7 linked regions of the Homo sapiens genome follow. The protein of the gene in region 1 purifies or fractionates together with the protein of each later gene. This does not show direct contact. Each region holds a gene or a part of one and is shown on either strand. Other genes may lie near its edges.

Evidence for each region.
Region 2: the proteins of DNAJC15 (region 1) and TIMM17A purify together in Homo sapiens (affinity purification with western blotting; one study listed by BioGRID and IntAct). This does not show direct contact.
Region 3: the proteins of DNAJC15 (region 1) and ANP32B purify together in Homo sapiens (affinity purification with mass spectrometry, with the first as the bait; one large-scale study listed by BioGRID). This does not show direct contact.
Region 4: the proteins of DNAJC15 (region 1) and LRRC47 purify together in Homo sapiens (affinity purification with mass spectrometry, with the first as the bait; one large-scale study listed by BioGRID). This does not show direct contact.
Region 5: the proteins of DNAJC15 (region 1) and CAND2 purify together in Homo sapiens (affinity purification with mass spectrometry, with the first as the bait; one large-scale study listed by BioGRID). This does not show direct contact.
Region 6: the proteins of DNAJC15 (region 1) and FAM204A purify together in Homo sapiens (affinity purification with mass spectrometry, with the first as the bait; one large-scale study listed by BioGRID). This does not show direct contact.
Region 7: the proteins of DNAJC15 (region 1) and PJA2 purify together in Homo sapiens (affinity purification with mass spectrometry, with the first as the bait; one large-scale study listed by BioGRID). This does not show direct contact.

Annotation. Positions count from the first base shown.
Region 1 is NC_000013.11:43,110,586-43,114,713, reverse strand, and holds the end of DNAJC15 (dnaJ homolog subfamily C member 15), read right to left. Parts: 3' UTR 501-4,128; downstream 1-500. UniProt on the Homo sapiens protein: Negative regulator of the mitochondrial respiratory chain. Prevents mitochondrial hyperpolarization state and restricts mitochondrial generation of ATP. Acts as an import component of the TIM23 translocase complex. Stimulates the ATPase activity of HSPA9.
Region 2 is NC_000001.11:201,958,503-201,962,002, forward strand, and holds part of TIMM17A (mitochondrial import inner membrane translocase subunit Tim17-A), read left to right. Parts: intron 1-3,500. UniProt on the Homo sapiens protein: Essential component of the TIM23 complex, a complex that mediates the translocation of transit peptide-containing proteins across the mitochondrial inner membrane.
Region 3 is NC_000009.12:97,993,341-97,996,840, reverse strand, and holds part of ANP32B (acidic leucine-rich nuclear phosphoprotein 32 family member B), read right to left. Parts: intron 2,211-3,500; coding exon 2,061-2,210; intron 1-2,060. UniProt on the Homo sapiens protein: Multifunctional protein that is involved in the regulation of many processes including cell proliferation, apoptosis, cell cycle progression or transcription.
Region 4 is NC_000001.11:3,793,699-3,797,843, forward strand, and holds the start of LRRC47 (leucine-rich repeat-containing protein 47), read right to left. Parts: upstream 2,801-4,145; 5' UTR 2,779-2,800; coding exon 2,164-2,778; intron 1-2,163.
Region 5 is NC_000003.12:12,806,680-12,810,179, forward strand, and holds part of CAND2 (cullin-associated NEDD8-dissociated protein 2), read left to right. Parts: intron 1-626; coding exon 627-781; intron 782-1,530; coding exon 1,531-1,654; intron 1,655-3,379; coding exon 3,380-3,500.
Region 6 is NC_000010.11:118,339,525-118,343,780, forward strand, and holds the start of FAM204A (protein FAM204A), read right to left. Parts: upstream 2,801-4,256; 5' UTR 2,746-2,800; intron 2,404-2,745; 5' UTR 2,203-2,403; intron 1-2,202.
Region 7 is NC_000005.10:109,371,975-109,375,474, reverse strand, and holds part of PJA2 (E3 ubiquitin-protein ligase Praja-2), read left to right. Parts: intron 1-3,500.

The sequences.
Region 1 (4,128 bases):
GATGTGTCAGCATTTCTATTACCATTGCCTATGTTTAGAGTTCTTTATGCAGTCAAAAGTGCTAAGGCCAAAAATTGATATGAAGATAACAGAGGCAAGATATAAGTAAATAAACCAAGGAACTAGGCACTTTTCTTTGGTATTTGCATTACAACATAAATATAAAAATCAATTTAAAAGTATTGTTGGGCTGATTTCTATTTTTTCCCTTCTTTATTTTGGTATGAGAGGTAAAAATCCAAGTTTCAATAATGGCTTCTGAGAAAATTCACATGTCTATGATTTGGGTTTCTAACAGTTGCTTTTAAAAGTGAACCAATCGATACTGTGTCCTGAGGGACAACTGGGCTGAGCATCTCATGAGGAAGTAAAGGGAAGTGTAGAAAAAGTGAAAGACTAAGATAGACTTTCAATAAATAAAAGAGTTCACAATGTAGATGAAGTTGTACAACACATGAGGTGTTCTTCAAGAATTATACAACAGAAAAATTGAGTGTAAATTCAATTTTAGCAGATTAGGTTTTATTTTAACTGCATCGGGAAAACCACATAGATAAAACTATCTTATTGTTTATCCTTTACAATTTTAAAGCAAAACAAACACAACAGCATTTTATTTATTTAATTGTAGTGCATCCGTATTTTCACATATTGGATTTTAAAAAATCTCTGCTTACAAGAAGAAACGAAAGCCCAAACAAGAATGTAGTATGTAAGCGAGTACAAAATGAGATAGAGTAGAAGGCAAACTGATTACCTAAGTCCCAAGAAGTCAGGAAACAAAGTGTAACTCAGATCCAAGCAGGGTTAACCAGGAAAGGCTGCATTTCTGTGTGTACCTGCTGCTTTCTTCAGCACTGCACTGTACAACATTCTGGGGCAGCCTGAGAGATGCAGACTATACAAATATAGTCTCACATCTCACCACCAAAGCACAAACATTCCAGAGGCATGGAAGCCAAAGTGTAAACACTTCTGCAGTCAACTCTTAACTATTCACATTTACAGAAGGAAAGAGCAAAGGCACCACTAATCCAAGAATAGATAAATGGAAAGATCACTGAGTTAGCTTTGGAATACACTCTTGCATATAGGTGTATCCATGTTCAAGGAACTCACAAGTCTGTTATGAATATTAGTCATAAGGAGTTAGAAACTTTCTCCAGGAGTCAGAAACCTTTTCACCATTTATTACAGCTACTGGAAATAGAGAATTAACTGGACAATCTCAAAGACACATTCTTAGACTGGTAACTAAAGTTCCATTGACTCCACCAGACAACTATAGAACTATACACAATTTTGGAATTTGGCAAAAAAAGTATGGCATGGACAAATAACCCTGTTCAAAATTGAAAATAAACAGCAGGAAACAATTTTTAAGAATTCTATAAAAGTACTGAAATTCCCTTTCAATTGCTGCAAGTTACCTCATTTCAGTTGTCTTGTTTTCATTGCCTCTCTGCTCCTTTCAATATATTCGGTTTTCTTGTTTTCATCTTTAATACACTGAGCTCTCTCTTCATTTCTTGTGCCAGGTCTGCTGCTTCACCTTCATGAGCTGTCTTCAGAACCTTGCTCTGGATGTTCTCCTTGAAAGCTCTTGTCCATGAACATTTCAGATAAAATCTTATCAAAGCTTCCTCCGTCATCACTCTGAGTCAAAGAAAGTCACTCTGCTAAACTTTACAACAGAACTTTTGCTATGTGCACTTGGATGGACATCGTAAGCTTCCAGGGAAGAATTAAAGAGATTAGGTACTCCTTGCCCATGATGCACAATGACACTGGATCCTTTCGTAAACCTAATTTCACATTTATAATCCCAGGTCACATGCATCAAAAAATGAGCCAAAAGTCATACAAGCCCCTTCATTCTGATTCCCACATATTTAGAATGAGTGCAATATAATATAAACAGCATGCGATTCAGAGTCTGAATTTGGTTCCTAGTGCCACCACTTACTGGCTATGTAATCTTGGAAAAGATCCTAAACTCCTCTGAGCCTGTTTCTTAACCTGTAAAATGGGGATACATAATAGTACCTCTTAGGCTGGCTATGAAAATCAAGGTAACATAGGTAGAATGTTTGGCACAGGTACTAAACGTTAGCTAATATTATTAATGCTTTTCTTAAAATGAACTTATTCTAATTATTGGCTTTTAGCATTATAGTTTAGATGTCCATATTGAACCAATATCTCTATGTGATTTTTATCCTGTCATAATTGAAGTTTGCCACTGTTGATCCCCCCTGCTAAGTTGAGATACTAATTTGAAATTTATGGCCAACATCTAGCCTGAGTGATCATATTCCACCCGTGTGAAATTAAGCTCCCTCTTAATGCTGAAGATTGAGTATTTCTCTACATCTATGTAATATAGTCTGTTCAGACTTAAAATTTGGAGCAGTGCTGCTAGATACTGTTGAATCGAACAGAGAGGGAAAGGGTTATTATGGCAGGAAGAGAAATGAAGATTACTTAATGAACTTGCATTTCAATTGAGCAGGGTTTTTAATACAAAAGAAAGAGCTTTTTATAAATTCTTTTGCTCAGCAACAATAAAAAGAGGAAAAGAGCACTCAGCTGGGAACAATAGCTACTCAGCTCATAAAAAATCATTAGAAGGAACATTTTCTTTGTCCACCATGCCCAGCAATTTTGCTGGTGGGCAATTATCCAGATCACTTAGGTTCCACCTATAAAAATGAGTCCAGAGAACCTTCTCAACTTTTCCAGCTAATAAATTATGCTAACAGAAGTCCTCATCTCTTAATGTGTGTAATGCCACCATAAATAAAATTTTGACTCATAATTCATGGAATGTTTTTGACAAGTAGATGATACTGATCCAGCCATTAATAGGATTTGCTCTTTGGGTTGCTTTTCCATTAGAAGGGACGGACTATGCTGACACATTTACTCATTCCCATCAAATCCTCCTTGCAGCCAGGAGCCTCCATCTAGTTGATGACTGTTGGGCGAGGTGCAGGGTGCCCGAGGACAGCATGGTTCCACTGTGTGAAATTGGCTGGTGTACTTGGATATTTAACTTTTCACTGCAGTCTCCGTAGCTCATCTTAAGTTGGTTGACTCAAGAGAAACTTCATATTCTTGACGTAAAGAGCCTGGCTGATTCATCTTCTCCCACAAATGGTATTAAACCATATTAAGCTAATTGTCAAGTGTGTTCAATTACCTTATCAATAAAAGCTCTTTTCTGTGTTCAAGGTTCCCCAGGACAACCAAAAGATTTCTGCACATGAATAAAATATATTATTTCTAATGATGCTGCTGGGTGATCAATCATAAGCACGCCCATTAATGCAACTCTTATATGTCTTGTTAATTAAAAAGTATGAAGGAAAAAGTTTCCTGTTTAAGAATGTATTTTTTTCAGTTTGAACATGTTGCACATTTTAAGAATGAATTTATATCTTTACTGCCTGATATAGTAAGTATTCAATATTTGCTGAATGTCTAAAATATATTTCATAAAAAGTAAAGTGCTTTGAAGACTAAACAATGTATTCCAAGCCCAACATTTTTTCCTTACTAAACTTCCCTCCACTTTTGACTTTACGCTGAAGACTGGCACCATCAACTAAAATCTAAATAGCTTTCTATGTTCCCCTTGAATTAACTGTCCTTGACTTACACTTTCTCTGCAATCGGAATTGTTTTATTTTTAAAAGGCCTTCCTAGGCCCTCAGATTGCATCTAAGATGTAAGTATGCACAGAAACTGCAATATCAACAGAGCTTAATTAAGCAGAATATGCAATGACAGCAAATATGCAAGCGCAATCTTTACTGAAGACAGGTAACCACTCAAATAAGCTTTTTACAGATAAGGAGTTGGGGGGAGGGTGTGGCTGGTGAAAATTCAGTTTTATAAGCCTACTGCCATTTAGATAATTACTCCTGAATATCTGCAACTGTACTTGTTCACTGCAACAATAAACAAGACTGATATGATCCTTGCTCTCAGAGAGCTCATAATTCATGATATTACTTTTGCTGGATGCACCAGAAAAAGAGGGATACATTTTAACCTTCTACTATGTAGGTATAGTTGTGGAGATCTGGGGATTAGGATGGCATCTTTAGGTACAAGGGTAACAGC
Region 2 (3,500 bases), on another chromosome or scaffold:
GACCAGCCTGGGCAGCATGGCTGCCCATTTCCCCAGAAAAATGGAAAAATTAGCCAGGTGTTGGGGCATGTGCCTGTGGTCCCAGCTACTAGGGAGGCTGACATGGACGGATCACTTGAACCCATGAGGTTGAGGCTGCAGTGAGATTGCACCACTGCACTCCAGCCTGGGTGACAGAGACCCTGTCTCAAACAGCAACAAAAACAAACAACACAAGGGTATAGTTAGATTGGAGAGACCGTATATAAGACATGAAAAAATCTTAATACTTCAGTCGTTCCTTAGATGTTTTGGGTATCAAAATAATCTTCTCTTTGCTTTTCTTAACTCTCACAGTAATGAAGAAGTTAGTACTATTATTATCTCCCATTTTCCAGATGAGGAAATTTAGTTCCTGAGGGTTGAGGTAATGTTGTATCTTTTTCCTTTGTTCCCTGTGTAAGAATTATCTACCCTGGAAAGTAATTAGTAACTAATTTCTCTTTGTTTTTGTGTTGGTGGTTATTGTGTTATTCAAGAATGATGAGTGGTATTAAAAAGTTCACACCAAACCCAGAACCTCTAGTATATGCAGAAGCCATATAGGTTTTTGCTTGTTTTTTGAGAGGCTGCTTCTATCACCTTACGCATTTTCAGTGAGTTAAAATACCATCAGATAACTGTCACTGCCAAAAGAAGCCTGTGAAGACATAGCAACTAAATTATTAGCTGGGCCCGGTGGTGCATGCCTGTAGTCCCAGCTACTCAGGAGGCTGACGCAGGAGAATCGCTTGAACCCAGGAGGTGGAGTTTGCAGTGAGCCGAGATTGCACCACTGTACTCCAGGCGGGGTGACAGAGCAAGACTCTGTCTCTAAAAAATAAAATAAAAGGGCTGGGCACAGTGGCTCACGCCTGTAATCCCAACACTTTGGGAGGCTAAGGCGGGTGGATCACGAGGTCAGGAGTTTGAGACCAGCCTGGCCAACGTGGTGAAACCCCATGTCTACTAAAAATACAAAAATTAGCTGGGCATGGTGGCACGTGCCTGTAATCCCAGCTACTCAGGAGGCTGAGGCAGGAGAATCGCTTGAACCCAGGAGGTGGAGGTTGCAGTGAGCCAAGATTGTGCCATTGGACTCCAGCTTGGGTGATAGAGTGAGACGCTGTCTCAAAAAATAAATAAATAAATAAAATTAAAAACTAAATGTAGGCCGGGCGCGGTGGCTCACGACTGTAATCCCAGCACTTTCGGAGGCCGAGGCAGGTGGATCACAAGGTGAGGAGAGCGAGACTACCCTGGCTAACACGGTGAAACCCCATCTCTACTAAAAATACTAAAAATACAAAAAAAAACAACAACAAAAAAAATTAGCCGGGCATGGTGACGGGCGCCTGTAGTCCCGGCTCCTTGGGAGGCTGAGGCACAAGAATGGCTGAACCCGGGAGGCGGAACTTGGCAGTGAGCCCAGATCACACCACTGTACTCCAGCCAGGGTGACAGCGAGACTCTGTCTCAAAATAAATAAATAAATAAATAAAAATAAATGTAATGTGGTACTGTGGAACAGAAAAAGGACATTAGCAAACTAAGGAAATCTGAATTAAGTATGGACTTCAGTTAATAGTAATGTGTCGGCCGGGCACAGTGGCTCACACCTGTAATCCCAGCACTTCGGGAGGCTGAGGCAGTAGATTACCTAAGGTCGAGAGTTCGAAACCATCCTGGCCAACATGGTGAAACCCCCGTCTCTACTAAAAATACACCAATTAGCCGGGTGTGGTGGCAGGCACCTGTAATCCTAGCTACTCGGGAGACTGAGGGAGAAGAATCGCTTGAGCCCGGGAGGCAGAGTTTGTAGTGAGCCGAGATTGTGCCATTGCACTCTAGCCTGGGCAACAGAGCAAGACTCTGTCTCAAAAAAAAAAAATAGTAATGTGTCAATATTGGGTCATTAGTTGTGACAGATGCTCCATGCTAATGTAGATGTTGGTAATAGGGAAAAACTGGAAGAGTTTATTTTTTCTTACAAAGCACGGTGAAATAGAGGAAGAGTGAGTGGTGATATGAGTGAATTGGAATTATCCATTTCAAATCCTAGAGGTTAGCCTTTTTTAGGAAGCTATTGAGAAGTTTTTATGGTATTTTAAATTCTAAAAATACTAGGATGATGATTTTATTAATTTGGTGAGCATTTGCTAAGGTATTCAGATCAAGGTGCAGGGAGGGACAGGCAGTATGGGAAAATCATAGTTGTGTTCTGAAAGGTGTTATATTTTCTTTCTTTTTTTTTTTGAGATAGGGTCACCCAGGCTGGAGTGTGGTGGCACAGTCTTGGCTCACTGCAACCTCCGCCTCCCAGGTTCAAGTGATGCTCCCACCTCAGCCTCCTGAGTAGCTGGGATTATAGGCATGCGCCACCACAGCCGGGATAATTTTTGTATTTTTAGTAAAGACGAGGTTTCACCATATTGGTCAGGCAGGTCTTGAACTCCCTACCTCAGGTGATCCGCCTACCTCAGCCTCCCAAAGTGCTGAGATTACAGGCATGAGCCACCACGCCCGGACTTAGGTCTTATATTTTCTTTTTTTTTTTTTTTTGAAACGGAATTTCGCTCTTGTTGCCCAGGCTAGAGTGCAATGGCGCGGTCTCGGCTCACGTCAACTTCCATCTGTCCGGTTCAAGCGATTGTCCATCCTCAGCCTCCCAAGTAGCTGGGATTACAGGCGCATGCCGCCACTTCTGGCTAAGTTTTTTGTATTTTAGTGGAGATGGGGTTTCACCATGTTGCCCAGGCTGGTCTCGAACTCTTGAGCTCAGGCAGTCCACCCGTCTTGGCCTCCCAAAGTGCTAGGATCACAGGCGTGAGCCATCCGGCCCAGCCCAGGTCTTATATTTTCATAGAGAAAATAAGATAGGATTTTGACATGTCCCTGTTACTCTTTGACCACTTTCTTGCATTTTGGAAGAAGACGTTTCAGGCTCATCTTGTACTTTTCATGCCCTAGCTGTGGGCAGGGCAGCTTTTCCTGTTGTAGCCATTTCTCCAAAGAGCCCCAGTTCCTTTTAGTTGAGAATGGTATTTAGGGCCAGAAGTGGTAGCTCACACCTGTAATCCCAGCACTTTGGGAGGCCAAGGCAGGAGAATGGCTTGAGCCCAGGAGTTCAACACCCTTGACAACTTAGAGAGAATGCCTCTCTACAAAAAAATTTTTTAAAAGAAAAATCAAGAATGGTATACAATCTATATTTCTGTATATCTATACATACTGAAAATCACAAGTTTATATTGATATCTCGTATTTCCAGTTCATCCCACAGGATTCATTATTTTCTTCCTTTTCATATGTATACCTGCCTTCTTAACCTGCTTGGGCTATGGTACCCCACAACAGGCTGCCCTTTGTCAGAGTATACTCTGACACTCCATGCCAGGCTGCCTTCCTTGAGAATCTCTCTCTTGCTTAGGCTCTAAAACCTTGTTCTCGGGTGTCCAGGTGTATAGACGTTCGCCTCATCT
Region 3 (3,500 bases), on another chromosome or scaffold:
ATCACCTGAGGTCAGGAGTTCGAAACCAGCCTGACCAATATGGTGAAACCCCCATCTCTACAAAAAAAAAAATACAAAAAGTAGCCAGGCGTGGTGGTGCATGTCTGTAATCCCAGCTACTCAGGAGGCTGTGGCAGGAGAATCGCTTGAACCTGGGAGGCGGAGGTTGCAGTGAGCCGAGATGGCACCACTGCACTCCAACCTGGGCAACAAGAGTTAAACTCCATCTCAAAAACAAAACAAAACAAAACCAATTTGTGTTCTGGAATAGGAAGAAAATAAAGTTCTTATCAATCATGAGTACACTCAACCTGCCTTTAAGTATGATTCCCTCTCATTAGCCCTATAAGGGAAGTGATTAATGTTTTAAATGTTAAAAGTTTTTAATTTGTGTACTTAACGTGCCCTCCCACCCAAAACCAACAAAAACAAAAACCCTGTCCTTCTCAGAACTCAAACAAGCTCTATTCAGAATTCTGAAAGGTTTATTAAAGTCCCTATAAAAACGGTCACTGATAGGCTGAATTTCTGAATAAGTCTGAGAGTACAGAGACCAACAGTAATTTGGGAAAATAAATCAGAATGCTAGGAAAACAACACAAAACACACACTAAGGATCTGCTAGCATCAAGTTTATGTAAATAGATGCTAAAAAGCTATACTATGTTTAACTGGGCTAATCAGAGCTTCCAATGTCACTGATAACCCATGCAAATATAAAAGAATTATACTTGAACCTCTAGTATACTTAGAAGGGGAAATTTCTTTCTCATCAGAAACGGTCACCTGAAACTCACGAAGACTGCTTGAGCATTTAATATTACCTAAACAAGGCAAATAAAGAAAGCAAAACAAAAAATACTTCCAGTTTTTAATTCATGTATTATACTTTTTTTTTTTTTTTTTTTTTAAATCGAGACAGAGTCTTGCTCTGTCGCCCAGGCTGGAATGCAGCGGTGTGATTTTGGCTCACTACAACCTCAGCCACCGCCTGGGTTCAAGCAATTCTTGTGCCTCAGCCTCCGGACTAGCTGGGACTACAGGTGCGTGCCACCGTGCCCAGCTGATTTTTTTGTATTTTTAGTAGAGATGGGGTTTTGCCATGTTGGCCAGGCTGGTCTCGAACTCCTGACCTCACGTGATCCTCCCACCTTGGCCTCCCAAAGTGTTGGGATTACAGACGTGAGCCACCATGACTGGCCTCATGTATTATACTTAACCCACTCCACCTGCTGTAAAACCACAAACAAACAAACAAACCCCAATACCAAAAAACTAACTGTCCCACTCAGAACTCAAGCAAGCTCTAGGCACAACCTACCTTTGCCCAAGTTTGATTAGTTTCCTTCTACGTGTGCCTTAGTTTAAATAAAGGTACAACTTAACTTTCCTAGTAAAGCGAATATTGAAATGGCAGAGAATTCTGCAAGACTTATATAACCACATATCTTTTCCTATATAATGGGAAGGGTATGGGGTTAGGAGATACGGGTTCTAGTTTTGGCTCTAGTACTAACCACTTCTGTGGGTGGCTTTAGGCAAATTACTACACTTTCCTGGGACTATTGCTGTGCCTATAAAATAAGGGGTTGGGTTAGAGGAGCAAAGTTTCTTCCAGTTCTGACATTCTGGGACTCTGTGACAGTTAAATGTGCAGTGACAAGAGAAAACATTTTTATGTTGCATTTGGTCCCTTTTTCCGAAAGGATAGAGAATTGTTTTTATAACAATTAACAAATAAATTACTCAACACAGTAATTATTCTTCCTAACTACTACTTATTGAGCACCCAACATGCATTATTTCCAAACTTCACAGCAATTCTGCAAGGTCAAGTAATACCACCAGTTTACAGGTGAGGAAATTGGGCCTTAGAGAGATTAAGTAACCTGCAGAAGTTTGCCCATCAAGGAAATGCTAGGGCTAGAATTCAATCCCATATCTGCCCAGTTCCAAAGGCCATGTGCTTTCTGCTACACTAAGTGCTTCCTTACAGGTAAAATCATACATTTTCCCTTCCCAGGATCGTTCTCTTTTACTGTTAAAGAAAAAGCACTTACCTTTTTCAATTTAGGCAGCTTGGGGAGATTTGAAACTGAGATCAAGCCTACATTTATTAAACTGAGGAACTCTAAGTTCACAAATTCAGCTGTTAAGCCCTCAATTTTTCCATCATTTGATTTGCAATTGTCCAAGACAAGTTCTCGAACCTGTGGATGACAAAGAAAAAAGGATAAGCTCTCAAAAACACATTGAAAACAAACAACAATGCAGAAACTTCTACCATAAATATCCTGCAAAAACACCCATATATACAGGCAGCCTCTTACTTAGACCTAGATCATAGTTATAAAAAGATAAAAACTGATTAAGCCTTCAGTAACAATATACTGACAGGTTCAAAGATGGAATATTATTCCATGGGTATAAACACTTACGCTCTTTGTTTTTCCAGAAACAGAAACTATACTTTTTAAGATATAAGTGAAGTAAGCGTATTCCCCTTATTTCTTTTCTCCAGCCTGTTCCCCAAAGGGCAGCTTTTATCTAAATGCAAATGCAGAATGAAGACACTCTTTAGGCTGGGTCTACCTTAAGGCCCAGAAGATGACCCCTGGAAAAGAGGAAAGCTTTATGTTTCCTATCAAGACCACTAAGAGATTCTGGCTAGAGGTTTCTGCACCAACGCACTTTCCAACTCTGGTTTTAGTAATCTTTGCCAAGATTATCTTGACACTGGGAAAAAAAATCAGGATGCAAGAGTCCTTAATTCAAAACAAAGATCAATCTGGATTGCACTTGAGAAAGATGTTTCTAGCAGAGAACTGCTACATAATAAATTAAATTGCATTTTCAGGCTACACAGTCTCTTTTTCAGAATTTAAGTCCATCCAAGAGTATCACATCTGGCCGGGCGCAGTGGCTGACGCCTGTAATCCCAGCACTTTGGGAGGCTGAAGTGGGCAGATCACCTGAGGTCTGGGGTTCAAGACCAGTCTGGCCAACAAGGTGAAACCCCCTCTACAAAAATACAAAAATTAGCCAGGCAAGATGGCGAGTGCCTGTAATCCCAGCTACTTGGGAGGCTAAGGCTGGAGAGTCGCTTGAACCTGGGAGGTGGAGGTGGCAGTTAGCCGAGATTTCGCCATTGCACTCCAGCCTGGGCAACAGAGTGAGACTCCATCTCAAAAACAGTATCACATCTGATGATTTGAACTTTTGAATATTGATTATTTAATAGTCTACATGCAGATCCACCACAATAATCCATATTGCCATTCTTGCTCTATGATCATCCTGAAACTTGCAACTTTTTAGCTCACTTTGATCTACTCACAGTGATGCAAATTACCATTTTAACTGCACCAACAAAGGCATTCTTTTAGTGAACCTACCATATTTAATAGCATTAATCAAGCATGTATACAGTAGGGAGATGCTGACAGTCTGAAAAGAGAAGAGGAGCTATTAACAGTGTCCTCATCCTCTCATACAAAATC
Region 4 (4,145 bases), on another chromosome or scaffold:
GTCTGATCAATGGCTCTACCTGAAACCAAAAAGAGCTCCCCGCAGCCCCAGCCAGAAGTGACTCAGTAAGCAGGACCGTTTCCCACACCCCTATGATTGCACCTCAACCAATCAGCAGCAAGCACCCGTTGCCTAGCCACCCTCCCCTTTCCCCAAACTATCCTTGAAAAACCCCGCCTCCAAATTTTTGGGGAAGCTGATTTAGTAATAAAACTCGGCCGGGCGCGGTGGCTCATGCCTGTAATCTCAGCACCTTGGAGGCCAAGACAGGCAGATCATGAGGTCAGGAGATCGAGACCATCCTGGCTAACACAGTGAAACTCCATCTCTACTAAAAATACGAAAAATTAGCTGGGTGTTGTGGCGGGCGCTTGTAGTCCCAGCTACTCGGGAGGCTGAGGCAGGAGAATGGCGTGAACCCGGGAGGCGGAGCTTGCAGTGAGCCAAGGTTGCACCACTGCACACCAGCCTGGGAGACAGAGCGAGACTCCATCTCAAACAACAATAATAATAACAGTAAAACTCCAGTCTCCACTTTAGCTGGCTCTACATGTGTAAAACTTTCTCTATTGCAACCCTCCTGCCCTGATAAATCAGCTCTATCCGGGTAGTGGATAAAATGAACCCATTGGGCAGTTACATCAGTAACCATGTGTCACTCTACAGTGGGTTTGTTTTTTTTGCCACAGGGTCTCGCTCTGTTCAGGCTGGTATCACAGCTCACTGCAACCTCCACTTCCTGGGCTCAAGTGATCCTCCCACCTCAGCCTCCCGAGTAGCTGGGACTACAGGCACGCGCCACCAGGCCCAGCTAATTTTTGTATTTTTGTAGAGATGGGGTTTCACCATGTTGGCCAGGCTGGTGGTGTGACCTCAAGCGATCTGCCCGCCTCAGCTTCCCAAAGTGCTGGGATTACAGGTGTGAGCCACCGCGCCCGGCCAGGGTTTGTCTATATATCCTTATATAGATATGTTACTTGTAAAATGAGTTGCAATGTCTTGAGGAATTGCTACAGCAAATAAATAGATAAGCTGCTAAAGTGTATACGTATTTTATTAAGAAATGTCCACATAGGCCAGGCGCGGTGGCTCACACCTGTAATCCTAGCACTTTGGAAGGCCGAGACAGGCGGATCACATGAGGTCAGGAGTTCGAGACCAGCCTGACCAACACAGTGAAACCCGTCTCTACTAAAAACACAAAAGTTAGCCGGGCGTGGTGGTGTGCGCCTGTAAGCCCAGCTACTCAGGAGGCTGAGGCAGAAGAACCGCTTGAACCCGGGAGGCGGAGGTTGAAGTGAGCCGAGATCGCGCCACTGCACTCCAGCCTGGGTGACAGGACCAGACTACATCTCAAAAAAAAAAAAAAAAAAAAGAAATGTCTGCATAAATTCAAAGACGAAAAATGGGGGAAGAAATGCAGGACTGCCTTAAGGATGAAACCAAAAGAGAAGATGGAGAGAACATCTGGCTGGGTTTAGGTCGTGGTTCTGCCATGTGGCTTCCCTACTTTCTTTTAGGCAACAGATTCAATGGGCACCTGTTATAGGCCAAGCATTATCGCGGGGCCTGGGGATCCAAGATTAATTAGTAAACAGACGCTGGACAATATAGTCTGGAGAAAAACCCAAGTTACCTGCTGCTTACTTTGGGCAGGCCCTTTGGCTTTCTGTAAAACAGGAATAACCACCCCTACCTTGGAAAGCTGCTATTAGGATGAAGTGAAATATAATCTTCAAGATCACAGCATGTGGCATTATGCAAAATCCAGGGTGCCCCCTTCACCACCAGACTCACTCTCAAGTCACTTCACAAGTACTAGATACAAAAAAGACAGGTCTCTACGCTCGATCTACAGGAGAAGCCAGGTTTGCTAACAATTACAAAATAGCGTACCACGTGTAAAAGTCCAGTTAACAGAATGCGGGGGAGTTCAGAGGCCACCTAGTATGTTGGTGTGGCCAGGAGAAGGGGGAGTTGGAAGGCGGCATCTGCTTCCCAGGGGTGATGCCCCCCGCAGCTGGCTCCTTTCAGCCTTGTAGGAATTCCCTGGGCCCAGTGCCCCAGGGGGCGTCACTAGGAACTGCTCGGCCCCGAGAGGGGTTCCTTCTCCAGGGCTACTCCAAGGCCCCATCCCGCCCCGCCCGGGCAGCCCCCGCTGACCTTGAGCGAGGCCAGGTGGGCGATGTCGGGGCTGAGTTCTCGGAGGCAGTTGTCAGCAGCCGCCAGTTCACTGAGCAGGGGCAGCGCGCCGGGGCGAAAGAGCTCGGCGGGAAAGGAGTCTAGGCAATTGCCGGTGAGGTTGAGGCTCTGCAGGCGCGGGGCGCAGCGCGCCAGGTCGGCTGGCAGCTCGCGCAGCCGGTTGCCGCTGAGGTTGAGGCTCTGCAGCTGCGGAAGGCCCGGCGGCTCGGCGGGGCCCAGGCCTTGGCCCGGCGGCAGCGCCTCCAGCGCGTTGCCCGACAGGTCGAGCACCCGAAGGGCAGGCAGCGGCCCGAGCTCGGGGCTCAGGCCGGGCCCCAGCGCGTTGCGCCGCAGCACGAGGCTGTGCAGCTGCGGCAGGCCCTGCGCCAGGCCAGGCCCCGGCGCGCGCAAGCTCCCGCAGCCGCTCACTTCCAAGTAGTGCAGCAGCGGCAGGGTGAAAAGCCGCGGCGGCAGCTGCCCACCCGCCGCCCGCACTCGCTCCTCCAGCCCGGGCCCCGTCAGCAGCAGCTCCCGCCGCCGCTCGCGCTCAGCCAGCTCCAGCTCCGGCCAAGACTCTGACACCGCTGCCGCCGCCATGGCGCCTCAGCTGCTGGCAGGCACCCACCCACCAGGGTGCTTCCGGGGCAGCGCGCGCCACTTCCGACCTGTGCCGGAAAAGCCCATAGAGAAGCCACCTGGCTGCTAGAGTGCCGCCGCGCGTGCCATAGAGGAGAGTGGCCTCTCCTGCGTAGAGCCGGGGAGGGGCTGGAGAGCGGCTCGCTCTCTCCGCGGGTAGGGGTGAGGGTGGGGGTTATGAACCCAAAAATATCTGAGACAGGACTCAATGAAATGTAAAAAGTTTATTTTGCCAAGGTTAAGGACACGCCAGTGTCACAACCCTAGGAGATCGTGACGATGGTGCCCAGGGAAGTTGGGATGCAGCTTGGTTTTGTACATTTTGGGGAGACGTGAGACATCAATCAACACGTGCGAGTGTACCTTGGTTCAGCCCAGAAAGGCTGGACAATTCCAGGAGAGGGCTTTCAGGTCACAGGTAGAGAAGAGACCGGAGGGTGCATTCTTTTGAGTCTTTGTTCAGCCTTTCGCTGACTGCACAATTTATTATGCATGTGAGACGCGGGTAGAGGAATAGTCGCTTATGCTTTAGTCTGGCTTACTGAATCTTCATTTCTACGTAAACAGTAGAGCAAAGGAAGCGATCAGATATGCATTTGTCTAGGTGAGCAGAGGGATGGCTTTGAGTTCAGTCCTTTGTCTCGCACCTGTGAAGGGAAGCTATCAATTTGCATTGCCAGGGTGAAATTCAACAGAACTGTTTTAGGGTAAAGATCTTGAGGCCCACAGAGAATTTCTTTGTGGGCAAATTGTGAGGGAGGTGTGTAGCTTTAAAAATATGTATTTGTAACTATCTTATTTAGGAATAAGACGGGAGGCCGATTTGCCCGAAGCAGTTCCCAGCTTGACTTTTTCCTTTGACTTAGTGATTGTGGGGTTTTGAGATTTATTTTCCTTTCACAGGGTGGGGTGCGGGCGGATGGAGGAGCCAGAGTCTGTGCTCTACTGTGCCCCGACCGGCTTGTTTTGGAATTCCTGCACTTTTGAGTGGTGTAAACCAAAACCAAAATTCTTTTTTTTTTCTTGAGACGGAGTCTCGCTCTGTCACCCAGGCTGGAGTGCAGTGATGCTATCTTGGTTCACTGCAACCTCCGCCTCCTGGGTTCAAGCAATTCTCCTGCCTCAGCCTCCCGCTGGAACTACAGGTGCATGCCACCGTGGCCGGTTAATTTTTATATTAACCGTGTTAATATAATTTTTATATTAACCGGTTTTCGCCATGTTGGCCAGGCTGGTCTCGAACACCTGACCTCAGGTGATCTGCTCGCCTCAGCCCCCCAAAGTGCTGGGCTCACAGGCACAAGCCACCGCACCCAGCCCCCAAATTC
Region 5 (3,500 bases), on another chromosome or scaffold:
CTAGTGCCGCTGTTTTTACACTTTCCTGTGCATTGGAATCACCTGGGGACCTTGTGGCGCTACAGATCCTGGCTCAGTAGATCTAGGGTAGGGTAAGGCCTGAGATTCCACATCCTGAACAAGCTCCCGAGTGGCATTGCCAATGCTAACTCACCACCAAACTTTGAGAAGCAAGCCTCTAAGGCAGAGGTTCTCCAAGTGTGCTCCCTGGACCACCTACAGTATCAGCCTCAACTGGGAGCTTGCTAGAAATGCACACTATCAGGCCACACCTAGATATAGCCCTCCTGACTCTGAAACTCTGGAGGTGGGGCCCAGCCATCTGTTTAAACAAGCCCGCCAGGGGATTCAGATGCACCCTCAAGTTTGAGAACCCTTGTTCTGGAGCACTATTTGGCCATTTCCTGAGACGTAAAACACAAGAAGAAATGTAGGTTTGGGAGGTCCCAGGAACGATGTTGGCATAGCCAGAGAGTATCTCTTTCTGGCCAAACAGGGGCTCCCCTGATGATCTGAGGCCTTTTCCTCAGCACGTGTGGCCGCAGGAGCATGAGGGGACATAAAGGGGCAGCCTGACTCAGGCTGAACCTTGTGCCCTTGGATTCACCTTCCCACTCCCTGCTCAGCCTGGGTCCTCTGGTGGTCAAAGTGAAGGAGTACCAGGTGGAGACCATTGTGGACACCCTGTGCACCAACATGCGGTCAGACAAGGAGCAGCTGCGAGACATTGCCGGCATTGGCCTCAAGACCGTCCTCTCGGAGCTCCCTCCTGCAGCCACAGGTACCCAGGTCCCCAGGACTAGGTACTGTTAGTATTTGTCCTAGTTTATGGTAAAAAAACAAACGAAAAAACAAAAAAAAAACACTGAGGCTCAGAGAGTTGAAGAGACATACCTGAGGTCACTCAGCTAGTAAGCAGGGCAGAGAATTCAGGCCCAGCTCAGTTTAAGTTCATGGTTCTGTGTCAGGAATGCTTTTAGCTCAAGTGATGAAATCTAACTAACGGCAGTTTAAAGAAATCAGGGGTGGTTTTTCCTCACATGGCAATCCTGGAGGAATCAGCCACTCCATTTTTGTAGCAGTTCATTTAGTGGCTCAATGTTGACAGGGTTCCAGTCTTGCCCCATGTCCCCTCCCTTTATAGGGAAAGCACACGTTTTCCCAGAAACCCCCAGAGGACTTCCACTTATATCTCACTGGCAAGAGCTGGATCACCCAGCCACTCCCAGCAGCAAGGGAGGCAGGAAAGGAAGTGTTTAACTTTCCCTGCCTCCCTAGTGGAATGGGGAAAGGAAGAAGGGCTTGGGTGTGTGTAAGTCACCCAGAAGCTCGGCCATCAGCTCTGCAGCTCCCCTAGCTGTCTCCTTGACTTTGGCCAGACTCTGGGTCAAACCTGGGACCTCTGGAGCCCTGGTAAGATTCCCGGGGATGTGGGCTCAGGAACACAGCCAGAGCAGAGGCAGACTAGTGGTGGAGGCTGCCTTTCCCCCAGGCCAGGGCCTCACTGTGCCCACCTTGTGCCCTGTGCAGGCTCCGGGCTGGCCACCAACGTGTGCCGGAAGATCACAGGCCAGCTCACCAGTGCCATTGCCCAGCAGGAGGATGTGGCTGTGCAGCTGGAAGCCCTGGACATCCTCTCTGACATGCTGAGCAGGTGTGGGAGGCCATCCTGGGTATTGAGGAAGAGTGGGTAAAAGGGGACAGGGAGGGACTCAAATCACAGAGCTAGCACCTACTGCACACCAGGCCCTGTGCTTGGGGCTCCTTAATCATCCCAGCAGCCTCGTAAAGGAGAACTCAATTGTCACAATTTTACAGGCTCTGAGAGATGATGCGGTCAGTAAAACCTCCCATGACTTGAACACCTGCTCTGGCCAGAAAAATGTCAGGTGCTGGCCTAGTGTTGGGAACATGGGGTTAGATCAGTCTTGGTTGTTCTAGGGAGGAGTTCACAGACATGTATAAAACTGTGAATGGAGTAAGCACAACAGTAAGGATAAGAGCAGGGCTGATAGGAGCTCAGAGGAGCCCCCAGTCCAGCTGGGAGTGAGGAGCCTTCTAAAAGAGAGTGCTGCTAGAGCTGAGCCTTCGAGGAGGGGCAGGACTTAGCTGAGTTTGGGCAGGTATAAAGAGGATGCTGGAGGGGAGACTGTCCCCAGTCCAGAAGGCAGAGACAGGGGAAGACTTGGGGTCCCAGAGTCTGCCAGGGGTCGTGGGGCAGGCTGTAATGTGGAGAGGTGGGTATGCAGAGCTGAGGTGCAGGGCTGGCCAGGAGCCATGGGGCAGGGGTGAGTATTTGTGTGTTCTACCCTGATCTTTCTCTCTGCAGTGGAGAGTAGGTGGGAGGGGATTGAACAGGCAGGGGACTGGTTAAGAGGCTGCTATAGGGAAAGCAATTCGGGTTGTATTCAGGAGGGGGACTCCACAGGACTTGGAGTGGGCAGGGGAGGCAGGGACTGGAGGCTGACCCCTAGGGTTCTGCCTTTAGTAACTGGCGGGGGCAGACAGAGGTGCTGTGATGGGGTGCACTCCGGGAGCCAGCAGCAGGTGTGTGGGGAGGAAGGTGATGGATTCAAGCTGGGGCATGTTGAACTTGAGGCTCCTGGGAGGCACTCACTCAACCACACACTCCATGAGGGCAGCTCCCAGGATCAGTCTGTCTTGTTCACCCTGGCTTCCAGCACAGTCCCTGTCACTTAGCAGGTGAACAGGCAAACAAATGAAACCTAGGAGAGGGGGTTGGGTAGGACATAGAAATAAGGGAGGGTAAGGTCAGCGTGTTTCTGTAAAGTGAGAAAGAAAAGGTCTCAAGATGTTTACAGGACAGAAAATGCACGGGCCTCGTTTGAAGGTGTGGATAGAAGCTGCTGAGGCAGGCAGGAGCTGTGCTGTGTGCGCAGAAACCATTGTCTGGTGTTGCCTCTTGTCTTGAGCCCAGAGCTCAGCATCTCCAAAGGCACTAGGGAGCCATGGAAGGAGTTAAGCAGAGGAGTGACCAGGTGAGAAGTAGACTTTATACTGCTCTGGTCTCAGCGAGGAGGATGGACAGAAGGGGATGGTATTGAGGCAAGGCCTAGACTTCCAAGAAATAGGGACAGCCTTACTAGATCCTCTATGCTTTCCCCTATCAGGTCTTTCTCCCTAGGCTGGGAGCCAGGCTTTGCACTGCTGAGAAGTCCCTTTCTCTCTCCGCTTTCTCTCATGTAACAAAAGTAATTAAAATAATTCCTCCTCACAGTTGCAGGGCACCTCTTTTGCAAGGGCCATTGAGTTGCCATAATCCTGGGAAGGAGGCCGGGAGAGAATGGGGAGAGGGGCGGAGCCTGGCCCAGGTTGCCCGCGGAGTGCGATCGGCCTGATGCCCCCTCGTGCTCCCCAGGCTGGGTGTCCCGCTGGGCGCCTTCCACGCCAGCCTCCTGCACTGTCTGCTGCCACAGCTGAGCAGCCCGCGCCTGGCGGTGCGCAAGCGGGCGGTCGGAGCGCTTGGCCACCTGGCGGCC
Region 6 (4,256 bases), on another chromosome or scaffold:
GCCTGTCTCCAGAAACGTGGAATATCAGAGAAACAGAAACTTAAATTTGTTTAGCATAGATTATAGCCAAGTCCATATAACAGCCAATGTATTAATTCATAAGCTTTCATTTTTTTTACCCTGCAACCCAAATAATTTTCAATTTAATCATTTTAGCCCCAAGGAAAATGTAAATGACTCAGAATCCTTTTTCTCTCTATGGTTTTGAATATCACTTTCTTCATTTTACACACCCTCCACCTCTAGAGTTAAGATTTATTCCATCCCACAATTATCCTCAAGACATTCTGTGTGTACTATGCAGAACACATCTTTAGTCCTGGGCTAACACAATTTGCCATGAACTGAAAATATTTATATACTGTCCTAGTCTGAATAACTAGGGTTTCTTGTTTGTTTGTTTGTTTGCCCTTGAAAACCACCCATCGTTATTATTTAGCATACTTGGTCAGATAACAATGAATCAAAAACAGGGTACAGTTCAGTGGTTCCTAATCTAAGTATGAATATAGTAACAGGAGTCTCTAAGCTAATTTCAAAAAGCCCAAACTATTTTATTTTTCCCCTCAGTAAGACTGTACCATTCATCATTACAGGAAAAGACCAATTTAGTGAAGCACTATTTTTCACATGTTAATCAGAGGTTCACTGGTAGTTATAGGTCTGATTTTTATCAGAAAAAAACATTCATAAATAAGGTTGAGTAGACACAATCTTTCAAAATAAAGCAGCCAGGGAGAAATCAAATTATAATAAAAACCGTTCTAGATTGTGCACTGGTTACAGGGGGAAAAAGTCTTCAAAGTTGGAAAATGGTTTCTAGTCCTGAGCAACATAATTAGGAGAAAGCCACTGCATTTGTCTGGGCCTCCATTCTTAAGCTATAAAATAAAGGTTTGATCAAATGATCTCTGAGATGTCTTACAGCTCTAAAATGCCTCTTTATGATTTTGATATTATAAGTGCCCTAAATGCCCAGAGTCACCTCACTCCTGGATGTATCACTCCATTCTCTCTAGCACTGCAATCCTGATTAGAGCCCAGTATCCAGTAGATAAGGTTTCTCTCCTCTACCTAGCAACTCAGCCAAGAGGATGTTTTCAGAGAAACTCTGTACACTTCAGGACACTGAGAAGGGGAAGGAACCCTAGTTACAACAGGAAACACTAGAACCAGAAAGGGGAAACAAAGCAAGTCACTGCTGCACATGGCATACAAACAGTGTGGCAGGCCTTGGTTTTCCACTAATCTTCACAACAACCCTTCCACTAGGAATTACTATCTATATCAGCCCCTCCCCTACCCGCCCCGCCCCCAATTTACAGATGGGATAACTGACTTGCCTAATGCATTCTGATCCATTTGTTTTACAAAAATAGCCCCATGGCTTTAGATTATGAATTTTACAGAGCAGAGTTGTAAGCGGGGACAAGGATTTGCGACTGGGGCTGAGAATGATCTTAGCCTATAATTACAGACTTGTTAAATTTGGTTAAGAATTTTTTTCTGTACTTTTTGAGTACAGAAAGCTATGCAAGATGCTATACTAAGTTGCATACATCAAAGTCAAAGTCACAGTCAGAGGTTTGAGTAATAATGTCATATTTTCTGGACAACCAGACAGCTGCTTATAATCAAAACCCAAAAGATATATTTGAGCAGCTCGATGGGTAAATGTTTTCCATCTCTATTCCAGAATTTAAATTCCATTTTCATCGTATAAGGCTGTCTTATTTCCTATATTTTGTATTTGATTAGAAATAATTCCAGAAGCCTGAACTTCGTCTGATCTAAAATTAATTTCACTTGTATACTAATTATAAGCCACAATTATTTAACAATCTGAAGATTGTAATTTACATCATAATCAGAGTCTGTGACTTAAAAATAGTTACTATTTTCAAGCATGTTAACATCAACATTAACGTAAATATCCTATTTACTTTTATGAAATGAATGTGTTCCTTTTCTCAAAAAAGGTACAGAAAGGACAACTGAATTACAGGCCTGAGAGCGAATCCAGAAAAACTACTTATTTAGCAAGATTTTGCATGTATTCAACTGTTTTAATTAAAGAGAGTGTTCGTTTACTTGAGGCCTGGAAAACATTTTCCCAGACCCAAGATCCTGCATGGAAAGACAATAAACCAAGTTAACAGTTCAAGGCTCATTTTAAGTCGATTCCGCTGTGAGAATACTTACAGGGTCCAAGATTGCAAGAGGATGGGTCTAGAAAGGTACACCGTTCCTGCTTGGCTGCACAACCCGGAATTCTGCAGGCTTTCTGGCGGCAATGCCACACTCCAATCCCAAAAGAGAGAGAAGCCCCTCCCGGGCACAGAACTAAGCGCTGCACATTCCGGCGAAGGATGTCTAGCCTGCTGGCAGTCCCATTAACTGGAGCTGTTTTCCGGAATACAGCAACTGTAAACGTGAGCCTGTTTTCCCTATCGACAGCCTCCTCAATCCCCTCTCACTTTGACCTGGGTGGGACGGAGAACCCCCTCCACATAACAGGCTGGGGAGGCCGCTGCGACGCCCCTTTCGAGGAAGGCTGAGGGCGGCCCCGCCGTCGCTTCCGCGGCCCCGGGCCGGGGGCTTTTCTAGCCTGCTCCGGGAGGCTCGGCCGAGGAGCTATGAGGCCGCCCATGCCGCCTCCCTCGGCTGCCCACAAGAGGCCCTCCCAGACTCATCATGCCGGAGCCCGAACCGGCGGGTAACCAACCCTCCATAAGCCGTACTCACCTGTCAGGAAGTGGTCGCCCAGCAGCCATCTTAGGACCCCGTCAACATCGCGCCTTCTCATTGGCTCCTGCGTCTCAACCAATGGGCTGGGGCCGTTCTGGCCCTAGGGTCGCCTTAGCAACCGGCCTCCTGGGGCTTCCCTTTTTAGTCCGCCCGAAGGAGGTGGTTCCTTTCTTTCTTTTTTTTCTCTCTTTTATCTTGCCGTTTTCTCTTTCTTCTGAACATTTTTAAAGACTTTGTTCTTTCTTCATTCCCTGCTGTAGGCCAATGCGTCTGGGCAAGGAAAGGGCTGACATAGACCTTGAACTGAGAGTTGATGCCACCAGGAGGGAGAATCTTGCAGAGTGCTTTCTTTCTAGGCCCCTCTGCAAACGTCTTCATTCATTCATCCTTTCCCCTCACTCTCTTCCTTTTTTTTAATTTTTTTTCTTTCTTCACCTATTTATTGGGCGCCTACTTTGTACCAGGCATCGTGCTAATCTCTGGTTAGCAGAAAACATGCTGACTCTTGCTCTCTTGGCGCCTACCGTCTGGTGATGGGGTCCAAGGTGCTTCACTGACTGGACCAAAAGTTTACCGAACTTCTTTTTTTCTTATTTGTGGCAGGCACTGTGTTATGCCCAGAAGGGGGTGCTTGGGGAACATAGAAAATAAGGGGAAAAAAAAGAGAGAGAAAAGCACTGCGAAGAGGATAAAATACCCTATGGATAGGGATGGGAATAGGGCTATTTTAGAAATATTTGCATTTTCCGAAATACTGTTTTATAATAAGAATAACATTAAGTGTACCTATTTGCTAATTTTGTGATGATTATATAAGAAAAGCCTGGGCAACAGAACCAGACCCTATTTCAAAAAAAGAAAAGAAAAGAAAATACAGTAGGCTTCCCTCATCTGTGGCTTCTCTTAGCCTGATTTCAGTTACCTGGGGTCAACCAAGGTCCAAACACATTAAGTAAAAAATTCCAGAAATAAGCAATTCAAATGTTTCATTGCAAGCCCATTCTGGATATCCTGATGAAATCTGCAGTGTGAATCATCGCTTTGTCCATGCATGCTGTTAGGCTACCAGGTTCTTAGTCACTTAGTAGCCATCTTGGTTATCAGATTGAAAAACTATATGTGGGGTTCGCCATTATTCCAGGATTCAGGCATCTACCGGGGAGTCTTGGAAGGTATTCCCTGCGGATAAGGGAGGCTACTGTACACATAAAGACTTTAACATGTTACCTAGCCCACGCTAATTTTCAATCTCAGCTGTTTTTTGCTGTTAACATTACCAATAATGTCTTTCTTCAAAGCAAGCTAAATGTGTATAAAATTTTGCATTGCACTCAGTAATATATCTCAATTTCACATCAACAGATGGTTAAGCCTATTAACTATCCACTAAACCACCTCACCTCCAACATCTTCCAGAAGATGCGCCAAGTTTAGAGAGCAGTTTTCTATAACCCCAGAATCATAGTAAAACCTGAATCAGCAAGTTTGGATCGCCGAGGTCCCTCTTC
Region 7 (3,500 bases), on another chromosome or scaffold:
GTGCAGTGGCGTGATCTCGGCTCGCTGCAACCTCTGCCTCCTAGGTTCAAGTGATTCTTCTGCCTCAGCCTTCTGAATAACTGGGACCACAGGCATGCCATCATGCCCAGCTAATTTTTGTATTTTTAGTAGAGATGGGGTTTCACCATGTTGGTCATGCTGGTCTTGAACCTGTGACCTCAAGTGATCCACCCGCCTCAGCCTCCCAGAGTGTCAAGATTACAGGCGTGAGCCACTGCACCCGGCCAGCATTTTTAGATATAGGAATTTTGGCTACTTTTTAAAAATATGAATTATATATTCTTTTTAAGTAGAAAAGTATTTTAATGAATTCATGATTGCCTTCTTCCCTGAAAAATTCTAAATGATCATTTAATCACATCTGAAATGTTACACTCTGTGGGATAAACATTGCAGCCAGTAGCATTGCTCTGAGCTGTTTGACAGGTACTGAGCACCACCTTATTAAATTAGGATTCCAAGGGGAATTTTAATAGGCAGCATATAATTACCAGACTTAGAATTAGACCAAAGAGCTAAGGTTAATACCCTGCTCTTTTGAAATATACCCTGAGAAGTTTAGTAACTGTTTGAGGACAAGATCTTGAGTTTAAAAAAAACCTTTCAGCAATACTAGCATATCTTAACCTTGGGCCTAACTGCTCTGAAGAGAGGCATGCCATCTACTGTCTGTTCCTTACTTATAGCATTTGAGGTTTCTTGCAGAATTTTTGTGGCCTTAGGACTTAACTTTGCTTAAAATTTAAAAACCTTACTTAAGGTAAAATGTTGGGACAACTTACTTTGTTGATGATGTTGGGAAATAAAATGATTGTTAGCCATTTAGTTGACTTCAATATGATATATTAAAGGATTTGTTGAAATCTTAAGTGCCAGACTTTGTTCCAGGTGCCCTGTTAATACAAATCATAATGGTCCCTGTTCCCACAAGGTTCACTAGCTTTATGAAGAAGACAAAATATACGTATTTATTATTGTGAGGCTGAATTAAGCGCCTTTCCTGTTCCGTGTAGGTTACCTGAGAGCCACAAAGAAAGAGTTTGTCTGAGAACTTGGTACTACCCCCAACAAATAAAACATCTATATGCAGCCAAGGCACAGATCTTAAAGCATATGTGCTGACATTTTAGCAAACCTTTTTATCTTGTTTTCAAGTTCATAGAAGTTTGGAAGGAGCACATTAGGTATAAATGTGTTTGTTCTGCAGATATGCTAGGGAGTTCATGGGATTACAATAACCTGATACTAAGGAAAAAGACCAGAAAGTGACAAAAAGCAGGCACAATGCAAAAATCATAGCCATCTTAATGAAATTAAGCAGACTTATATATTTGGACATAATCCATTCATATCACTGTATTACATTACAGTTCAGTGTTAATAGTGGTAAAAAGTTCCAGAATGTTTAGATTATGTCAGATAACAAAATATTTAAAATTTCACTTTTTCCTAGGCTCCTGTAGTTGAGTTTCTTGTGGCTGTGATAAATGCCAGGAAGAACAAAGTAACAAGTACCTTGGGGAATTATGGAATGAGAGATTACTTTTGGTTGGTTTTATGTTTCCATAGCTTATTTCTGCCTAGGATTTGTACATAAATTTTGTCTATAATTTCATTCTGTATATCAAGTTTTTTTAGTTCACAATTGAATGTGTAGAGTGTAACATTTGAGTAAATTATAGTTGTCTGCTTTTTAAATACAACTCTTAGGTGCTAAAAGGGATCAGTACCAGTGAAGGATCATATGAAGATCAAAGTAGTACTTAATTTAGTTTTTACTTTGAGAACTTTTAAATGTGTCATTCACCCGCTTTTAAAATCTAGAACAAATGGATCTTCACTGTTCCATGATCATTTTTGTGTCCTATTTGTTCTGTTGCTTACTCCTTAAAAAGTGATTTTTAAATCTTTTCCCTTTTTTCCTTCCATGTACTCCTGTCACTCCTAATGGTTAGCTTCGTTTCTTATTTTCCTGTAGAAGTTAAAAATATGTAAATGTGAATTTTCTTATTTTCCTCTTCTCCATATTAGGGGATAGTAGTATTTATTTGTATTTTTAATTTCCTCTTCAATGAAGAGAGGTAGCCCCTCTCATTCTGTGCCTCTAGTTATTTCTGACACTTCATCTAATTGTCCTTACTCACAGGTTGCTTCCCTCTGTCTCTCAACCTTGAGTTTTTCTCAATCTTGAAGAAAACCTTTACTTTTTCTTGCTCTGTTATTTGCCTGTTTGTGTTTTCTTTTCTACTGCTGAATTTTAAGAAAAAGTTTTCCATACCCACTGTCTCTATTCTGTCACTATCCACTCTTCTTACTGCCTTGAAATCTAATTCCTAATATTATTTCTGTATTCTTTTTTATTGAGACAGTCTCGCTTTGTCACCTAGGCTGGAGTGCAGCGGTGCAATCTCAGCTCACTGCAACCTCCACCTCCTGGGTTCAAGCAATTCTCCTGCCTCAGCCTCCTGAGTAGCTGGGACTACAGGTGTGCACCACCATGCCTGGCTAATTTTTTTTTCTTTCTTTCTTTTTTTTTTTTTTTTTTTTTGAGACGGAGTGTTGCTCTAGTTGCCAAGGCTGGAGTGCAATGGTACCATCTTGGCTCACCACAACCTCCACCTCCCAGGTTCAAGCGATTCTCCTGCCTCAGCCTCCTGAGTAGCTGGGATTACAGGCATGCGCCACCACACCCAGCTAATTTTGTATTTTTAGTAGAGACCAGTTTTCTCCATGTTGCTTAGGCTGGTCTCGAGCTCCCGACCTCAGGTGATTCACCTGCCTCAACCTCCCAAAGTGCTGGGATTACAGGCATGAGCCACTGCACCCGGCCCTATATTCTTTAATGTCAGTGGTGACCTCCTGATTTCCACATCCATTTGTCTTTTCTCAGTACCCATTTTCTTTGATTTCTCTGCACTATTATGAAAAATAATTGCAATGTTAAAGAAGCAGCTGTGTTGTAGTGAGCTGCACTGAGTAAACAAGAAGTCTAGTTCATGAAATAATTGAAAAACAAAAGAAGCGATTTTATACAGGAAGGTCTTGAAAGAAATAGAGTCTGATCTGTGTTTGGAAGTGGGGAAAAGGTGAAGTGATTATAAAGATATTCCTGATGGCAAGAATGCCCACTTTGAGGACACTGTTTGAAATAGAGCATTCTTGAGTTGGATGCAAGAAAGTACTGGGATCAGATAGCAGTAAATTATAAGTGTTATTCAAAGACATTTAACTTTTTATTCTATAGGTCACTATTTCCAAAGTGGGTAAAATATATTAAGTGGTACACAATGTTTTTAATTTAATCATTATGTATTTATGTTAATGGAAATTAAGAAAATATAGGTAGCACATCAAATTCAGGACTTAATGGCTATTGCTTATCCTAACTAAATGTATTTGAGTTTAAAAAAATGTTAAAAAAAGACTCGCTAACAGTTATTGATGGCTCATTATTTATCAGGCATTGTGAAAATGTTTTA